Regions from separate parts of the Homo sapiens genome. Here region 2 is linked to region 1. A link means that fine-mapping ties the variant in region 1 to the expression of a gene that starts in the linked region. Tissue or cell type: whole blood. Region 1 holds a variant in brackets; the other region holds the start of a gene. All regions are shown on one strand. Distances are between the middles of the regions.

Evidence for each region. PIP is the estimated chance that this variant, and not a neighbour inherited with it, causes the effect.
Region 2: it holds the start of TLR5, and the variant in region 1 is fine-mapped to the expression of TLR5 in whole blood (INTERVAL, PIP 0.97).

What each region holds. Positions count from the first base shown.
Region 1 is chr1:223,110,665-223,115,052 of GRCh38, reverse strand. TLR5 (toll like receptor 5) reads left to right here. Exons shown (of 6, transcript NM_003268.6): 6 at 2,018-4,388. The coding sequence starts at 2,022. Among named protein-coding and RNA genes, the nearest start is that of TLR5, 30 kb to the left of the region's middle. The variant C/T (reference allele first, on the strand shown) is at 1,752.
Region 2 is chr1:223,140,661-223,145,048 of GRCh38, reverse strand. TLR5 (toll like receptor 5) reads left to right here and starts at 1,801. Exons shown (of 6, transcript NM_003268.6): 1 at 1,801-1,853; 2 at 3,286-3,401. LOC124904522 (a long non-coding RNA gene) reads right to left here and starts at 1,694. Exons shown (of 2, transcript XR_007066895.1): 1 at 1,451-1,694. RefSeq lists a silencer at 1,643-2,012.

The DNA of each region.
Region 1 (4,388 bases):
GAAAGAACATGCTGGCTGCTGGCTGGAAAATGAAAGCAAGACCAGAAATAAGAGAGCCAGTGAGGAGTCTCCAGTCTGGCCCATGCAAAGAGATGGCGGCGGCTTACAGTAGGGCAGTGGATAGGCTTGGGAGGTGGCACCAACAGGACTTGCTGAGGGATTGGATATTGGGGGGATGTTTAAAAGAATGATGTTTAAAAGACTCTGCTGTGTTGTCACCCTGAGACTCTGGATGGATATGGTGAAGCCATTTACTGAGATGGGGGAGAAATTCAGAGTGGTGATAAACATTCTCACCAAGTTTTTCCTAACGATTATTAGATGCCTGAGTTTGAAACTTTGAGTCAATCCAGGCATCCATGCCTACTTCTGATTTGCTGTAGCTTGTGTGCCACAGCCTCCCAGTTTCTGTGGAAACCCCACCATACATCAGCCCCAGCACAAAGCACAACCTCGTCAGAGCTAGCCCACCTCCAGCACCGTGACTGCTCCAGGCTTAATCTCTCCTGGTGTTGACACTTTTGCCAGTGATGGTGTCTCATGGGATTCATGCTCTTTATAAACCATTGCCTTCTTCCTATTTCTTTCATTTATTTTTCCTCTCATTCTCCTGCCCTCTGAGCTATATAACTCTTCCTTTACCTTCCAACAGAGGCCTTTCATTACATTTAAAGCAAATGGAATGCATAGTAGGCACCAAAGATGGAGGTGCTGTGCAAATAATAGACACCAAGCTCTCTGCAGGTGGGGTCCTTGTGTGTTTTCTCTTCATAGCACCCAGCACAATACTTGGAACATAAGCCAGACACGTTCATTGAGCACCATTTCTGCTGCACCCATGAAAAAAACACTCAACCCAGACAGATGGTTAGCTCCCCGACAGGACTTAAGCAAGTGGGCCAGTCTCTGTTTATTGTCGTACACTCACACAATCACACAGCTGCCAGGCGAGCACTAGGCACTTATCACACTTTTATTAAACCGATCACATCTGGCTCTTTGTGGGGTGCCAGAAAGTGCCCAATTTCTGCATGATGGGATGGACTGTGTGTGGAGTAAGGTCGGATAAATGGAGATGGGCCAGTAGCCTAGACAAATTAAGGGAGAAAAACAGTGAATTTATTTTCCACTCATCAGCCGAGCTTTCTGTGGGCTAGGAACGGGGTACCCGGCTGAAGTGAAGCAACATTGTGTCTCTTCCTGCTGTTTTCTCCACCTCCCCTCAGCAAATCATGAATGAATAAACAAACGAATGAATGAAGAAACATAGAGTTATTATAAGGATTAAGTGAAGGCAGGGTGCAGTGGCTCATGCCTGTAATCCCAGCATGTTGGGAGGCCAAGGTAGGAGGATCGCTTGAGCTCAGGAGTTGAAGACCAGCATGGGCAACAAAGCGAGACCCCCATCTCTATATTTTTATTTTAATTTAGAATAATAAATAAAATTTTTTTAAAAGAAAAGATTAAGTGAAATGTTTTTTAAGTACCTAGAATAGTGCCTAGTATACAGAAAATTCAACGTAAGTGTTTGATAGAGAGCAAGAATAGGCCAGGTGTGGTGACTCACATCTGTAATCCCAACACTTTGGGAGGTTGAGGCAGGCAGGTCACTTGAGCCCACAAGTTGGAGACCAGCCTGGGCAACATGGTGAAACCCCATTTCTACTAAAAATACAAAAATTAGCCGGGTACAGTGGCACGTGCCTGTAGTTCCAGCTAATCAGGAGGCTGAGATGGAAGGATGGCTTGAA[C/T]CCGGGAGGCGGAGGTGGCAGTGAGCTGTGATCATGCCACTGCACTCCAGCCTGGGCAACAGAGCAAGACCCTGTCTCAAAAAAAACAGAAATAGAGTAAGAATAGTTTTGTCTGTATCTGCCAACAGCCACGTCTGTGGAGTCAGAGGAATGAAGGGGTCAAAGGGAGCAGGCACATCATAGAGAATACCCCCAAGATCTGAAGACCCCAGTGCAATACCTCGAGCTTAAATGCCTGTGTTTTCATTCTCCCTTCTTCTCCATAGGATCATGGGAGACCACCTGGACCTTCTCCTAGGAGTGGTGCTCATGGCCGGTCCTGTGTTTGGAATTCCTTCCTGCTCCTTTGATGGCCGAATAGCCTTTTATCGTTTCTGCAACCTCACCCAGGTCCCCCAGGTCCTCAACACCACTGAGAGGCTCCTGCTGAGCTTCAACTATATCAGGACAGTCACTGCTTCATCCTTCCCCTTTCTGGAACAGCTGCAGCTGCTGGAGCTCGGGAGCCAGTATACCCCCTTGACTATTGACAAGGAGGCCTTCAGAAACCTGCCCAACCTTAGAATCTTGGACCTGGGAAGTAGTAAGATATACTTCTTGCATCCAGATGCTTTTCAGGGACTGTTCCATCTGTTTGAACTTAGACTGTATTTCTGTGGTCTCTCTGATGCTGTATTGAAAGATGGTTATTTCAGAAATTTAAAGGCTTTAACTCGCTTGGATCTATCCAAAAATCAGATTCGTAGCCTTTACCTTCATCCTTCATTTGGGAAGTTGAATTCCTTAAAGTCCATAGATTTTTCCTCCAACCAAATATTCCTTGTATGTGAACATGAGCTCGAGCCCCTACAAGGGAAAACGCTCTCCTTTTTTAGCCTCGCAGCTAATAGCTTGTATAGCAGAGTCTCAGTGGACTGGGGAAAATGTATGAACCCATTCAGAAACATGGTGCTGGAGATACTAGATGTTTCTGGAAATGGCTGGACAGTGGACATCACAGGAAACTTTAGCAATGCCATCAGCAAAAGCCAGGCCTTCTCTTTGATTCTTGCCCACCACATCATGGGTGCCGGGTTTGGCTTCCATAACATCAAAGATCCTGACCAGAACACATTTGCTGGCCTGGCCAGAAGTTCAGTGAGACACCTGGATCTTTCACATGGGTTTGTCTTCTCCCTGAACTCACGAGTCTTTGAGACACTCAAGGATTTGAAGGTTCTGAACCTTGCCTACAACAAGATAAATAAGATTGCAGATGAAGCATTTTACGGACTTGACAACCTCCAAGTTCTCAATTTGTCATATAACCTTCTGGGGGAACTTTACAGTTCGAATTTCTATGGACTACCTAAGGTAGCCTACATTGATTTGCAAAAGAATCACATTGCAATAATTCAAGACCAAACATTCAAATTCCTGGAAAAATTACAGACCTTGGATCTCCGAGACAATGCTCTTACAACCATTCATTTTATTCCAAGCATACCCGATATCTTCTTGAGTGGCAATAAACTAGTGACTTTGCCAAAGATCAACCTTACAGCGAACCTCATCCACTTATCAGAAAACAGGCTAGAAAATCTAGATATTCTCTACTTTCTCCTACGGGTACCTCATCTCCAGATTCTCATTTTAAATCAAAATCGCTTCTCCTCCTGTAGTGGAGATCAAACCCCTTCAGAGAATCCCAGCTTAGAACAGCTTTTCCTTGGAGAAAATATGTTGCAACTTGCCTGGGAAACTGAGCTCTGTTGGGATGTTTTTGAGGGACTTTCTCATCTTCAAGTTCTGTATTTGAATCATAACTATCTTAATTCCCTTCCACCAGGAGTATTTAGCCATCTGACTGCATTAAGGGGACTAAGCCTCAACTCCAACAGGCTGACAGTTCTTTCTCACAATGATTTACCTGCTAATTTAGAGATCCTGGACATATCCAGGAACCAGCTCCTAGCTCCTAATCCTGATGTATTTGTATCACTTAGTGTCTTGGATATAACTCATAACAAGTTCATTTGTGAATGTGAACTTAGCACTTTTATCAATTGGCTTAATCACACCAATGTCACTATAGCTGGGCCTCCTGCAGACATATATTGTGTGTACCCTGACTCGTTCTCTGGGGTTTCCCTCTTCTCTCTTTCCACGGAAGGTTGTGATGAAGAGGAAGTCTTAAAGTCCCTAAAGTTCTCCCTTTTCATTGTATGCACTGTCACTCTGACTCTGTTCCTCATGACCATCCTCACAGTCACAAAGTTCCGGGGCTTCTGTTTTATCTGTTATAAGACAGCCCAGAGACTGGTGTTCAAGGACCATCCCCAGGGCACAGAACCTGATATGTACAAATATGATGCCTATTTGTGCTTCAGCAGCAAAGACTTCACATGGGTGCAGAATGCTTTGCTCAAACACCTGGACACTCAATACAGTGACCAAAACAGATTCAACCTGTGCTTTGAAGAAAGAGACTTTGTCCCAGGAGAAAACCGCATTGCCAATATCCAGGATGCCATCTGGAACAGTAGAAAGATCGTTTGTCTTGTGAGCAGACACTTCCTTAGAGATGGCTGGTGCCTTGAAGCCTTCAGTTATGCCCAGGGCAGGTGCTTATCTGACCTTAACAGTGCTCTCATCATG
Region 2 (4,388 bases), 30 kb before region 1:
ATTGAAGGTTTAATATATGGGAATGACGGGAACCTCTGGCAGGGCTCTGCCTGTGAGCATCACATAGCACCCCGAGGATGTGTTTGCTACTCTAGGTTTCAGTGGAGAAAAAAGCAAGTGACAACCCTTCTGTTCCTGCTCAGCAAAAGCTTTGATCACCAGCCCCCTTCCCCTGAATATACTGGAGAAAAATAACAGAAGTGCATTTCAAGGTCCACATGTGAGAAGACCCTAAGCTGTCCTGGCTGTTCAGGTAGAAGTTGTCATCTTCCTCAATGATCTCGGCTGTTGGAAGACATGGCCAGGCAGACAGAATCTAAAAGTTCTTCCAGGTGTGACATGAGTCCCTGGAGCTCAGTGACAGAAACCAGTGTCCAAAACCAGATGCCACCCTGGGGAGGGGGCTTTGGGAGTTCCTGGGAGGCCATAACACCGTCTGGAAGGCTCCTCTCTCCCACATATTCACAAAGTTGCATGATAAGCCAGGCCCCTGCTGGTCTTGCAGCATCCACCTATGATGCAGAGTAAACAGTGCCACACGTCAAGCTGTCCCCAACCTTGCCCTCGGTTCCACTACCAAAAGAGGGAACACTGGGCTTGCCCCAGCAAGGTGTTATTTATGTCAGGCTAGGGCCACTGTGGCTCCCAGCTCTTACTGCTTTCTAGGTGCCCTTACAGACTTCCCCACTGCCCCCTGCATATGCCAGAGTGTGAACATCCCCTCCCTCTCCACAGCCCCCACAGTGGGGTTCGGGTGGGCAGGGAGGTGGTTTCATCCCTCTACATACAGCCCTTGGAGACCTACCTAGGCAATTTGTCACTCAGGCTTCAAGCTGCCAGCCGAGGAGGGGAGCTGAGAAGACTCTATAATGAGATCTTTGCACTGTAATTAAGTGCCAGGCTTTGTTTTACACCTATCTTTCCCGCCTTGCCCGATCCCACCGCCAAGCTCCTCCAGGCAGTGAGTGGGGAGTGTCAGCTGCTCTGTGATTACACCCCAAGTGGCAGGTGGCAGGGAGCTCCTCCGCCTGCAGTCTGCGCCCCACCCCCAGGCTTCCCCCACCACCAGTCTTAACTCAAGACAGTGCTATTTCTGTCCTTGAACTGGGTTTCACCCCAGAAAGCCACTCCACCGCTTTCTCATAAGGCTACCTCCTTTTAACCCTGTGGTTGCACGGCCTCTGGGGTGTCCATTTCTTTCTTTTGACACGTCCCTTTTCCTGAAAGTTTCAGCAAACCCCATAGGCAGAGGGAGTTAGAAAAAGGAAAAGAGAAGTTAGGGCAGGAGGAGCACTGTTCTTATAGGACAGGAAGGGTCTGTCTTCTCTCTTGGGTCCTCCACACAAAATCGGAGCTTCCAAACACCCCAGCTCCCAAACATATGCAGCAGATTCTGCTGACAGGAATGTGTCACTGTGATCTTCACATTTTAGCCTGAAGTTTAGCCTACCTGAAGAAGCACCGGAGTGGGAGTGGGAGAACATGGGATGGTGCTTCTCTTTGGCCTGGCTGTGCTTTTGGACACTTCAGGTCTTCGGCCTGGGTTTCCTCCTCCGTACGATGAGGAGAGGATGGGAGGGGGCAATGCTGGCATGTGTGATCTCGATAGACACTGTGGAAGTCTGCAGAGACCGGAGCATAACCTCTGCCTCCTCTCCCCGGGCCTAGCCTCTCACAGCCCTCAGAGAAAACCCTGAGCTGCGGCGTGGCCGAGACGGGGGCGTGGCCTGGCAGGTGGGCGGGCCCTTCCGTGGGCGGGGCCGCGAGGTTTTCAGGAGCCCGAGCGAGGGCGCCGCTTTTGCGTCCGGGAGGAGCCAACCGTGGCGCAGGCGGCGCGGGGAGGCGTCCCAGAGGTGAGCGCCCTGCAGCGGCAGGGGATGGGCCGGGGGCCCTAAGTCGTAGGCAGCGCGGGGCGGGGACGCGGCTGCCTGCGGAGGTCGGACTCCTCTCCGCCCTCCTCCCGGGCTGTCCGGGTCTATTTTCCAGTCTATGTCCAACTCGCGCCGCCTCACTAGGCGGCGCTCTCTGCCCCGCGGCACCCGCGAGACGTGGGGTCCCTCGGCCCAGGGACGGGGTGAGCGTGTCATGTGGGTGCCCTGTGCCCGGCAGGTTGGAGACGAAGAGACCTCGGCACAGACGAAGTCACTCACATCCTCGCTTTGAAACAGAGCGGGTCCTTCTTGTGCTGTCTCGCTGTCACTCTCGCCCCCACCCTGTGGAAGAGGCAGGTGGCTTGTCCCCAGTCACTTTCTTCCTTGGAAAAGGGAGACAGAGGGCCATCTCCAGCAGGGCCATGGAAATCCCAGAAAGTCACTGAGCTGCTCAACAAAAGGCCCTAAACACCCCACCCCACAGCACCAGGCAGTGCACACTGGCCAAGACTCCGTGGTAAATATTGCTGGCCTTTATGTTGAGAGGGGGAAAAAAAAGCCTGCCTGTGAAGATCATTGCCCAGTGGCCATGCTCCTGTGAAAACACAATTGGAAAGCCATTTCCTAAGGGGCGAGGGTGGGTCTGGGACCATGCTGTGGCTTGGGTGATTGGTGGTTGCAGGAGTGAGGGTGCTGCCCTGGGAAGGCGCTGAGGCCCTGTTGGGTGGGAATCGACGGCTGCGGCTTTCTCCCGGAGGAGGGAGAGCGGTGTTGTTACCTAGTGTTGGGAACACATCCGTCCAGCACCGTGAACTGCAAACAAGCAGAGTAACCCTAGTGTCCTTCAGATACTGTTGCTGAGCAGTCACCTAGTCAATGAGATGATCTGTTTGGACGGCAAGTGCATCTGTAATGCCGCCCTCTTGCTCAGTGCCTGGAAGAGGCATTGGTGACTCCCCGCTAATGCTAGGGGTAGCTACCGTGCAGGAGCAGTCAGGCTCTTGCAGGGCCAATGTGGTTTCATCAATTTTCTCCTGCATTTACCCAGCCCCTCCGAATTCTGAGAAGTGCGTCCAAGATCTCTTGGACTCCTTGACTCAGTTCACCCTTGTTCTTGTGGGCAGAAAACAATTCCCAGTGTGCCATGCACAGCCAGTCAGAAGGGAAGCCCTGGAGCAGGGCCCTGGGAGAAGTTCTGTGGGGCTGGATGCTAATTATTCAGTTACTGGATTGTGGGGAAATTCCAGGGGAGGTCCCAGAGGAGAGACCGTGCTAAAGCTAATTACTAAGCAGTACAAAAATAATCTCTCTCTCTCTCTTTCTCTCTCTCTCTCTCTCTCTCTCTCTCTCTCTCTATATATATATATATATATATATATATATATATATATATGTAATTTTTTTTTTGAGACAGTCTCACTCTGCCGCCCAGGCTGGACTGCAGTGACACAATCTCGGCTGACTGCAACCACTGCCTCCAGGGTTCAAGCGATTCTCTTGCCTCAGCCTCCCAAGTAGCTGGGATTACAGGTACCCACCACTACGCCTGTCTAATTTTTGTATTTTTAGTAGAAATGGGGTTTCACCATGTTGGTCGGGCTGATCTCAAACTCCTGACCTCAGGTGATCCGCCTGTCTTGGCCTCCCACAGTGCTGGCATTACAGGTGTGAGCCACTGTGCTGGGCCAAAAATAATCTAAATTTCAACAATCAGCATGACCATGCCTGTGCGTATGACCCTAATTATCAGTCTGACTGATTCTTCCTTCCAAAATGATGGCAGAGGATCACCTCTTTGGATATTTACAGCTCTGAGCAAAGCAAAAAGCATGTAGGTGCCATTGTCTGAATGCAAAACCAGCCATGCCAGGTTTTCGGTGTTGTTTCTGAGGAGGGAGCGCCTCTCTGGAGGACGGTGTTTCCAGAACAGTGCCTCCGTTGTTCATTCCCGTGCATCAGGAAGTTTGGCTCTGCTGAGTGTTGAAAGCAAAACTCTCCTGTTTATTTGTCTCTGTATACTAACAGACTTAAACAGCAGACAGCACTGGAATGTCCAGTTACTGCATCCAGATGTGTTTGTTTCACTCTTAACATTGTGGAAAAGAATGCAGAAGGCAGATCCAAAGCTTCAATCAGATTTCTGAAGCTTAAGTGATTCCCAGCCTTGGTCCCTTAATGTGAGAGCAACAGCGTATAGTGTCTTCCGCTCTCTGGGACAAACCCAAGTTTGAGGCATAGTCCCTGCTGTCCAAAAGCTCCTAGGTCTAAGTAGGAAGACAAAACCAGCACCTGTGAAACAATTAGAGCGCAATTAAGTGCGAAAGTATGTGGCAGCATCTGCTAGCTCAAAGAAGACAGCTAGTGCAGACTGACTGGGAAAGGAAGAGAGAGCTTCACAGAGCCAGCTGGTGTTCAGCTTGACTTAAGAATGACCATCAAGGGCTTGGCCAGGCCTAGGAAAGGAAGCATGAGGATATATGAAGCTCAGAATAATGAAAGGCACTTGCTGCCCAGAGC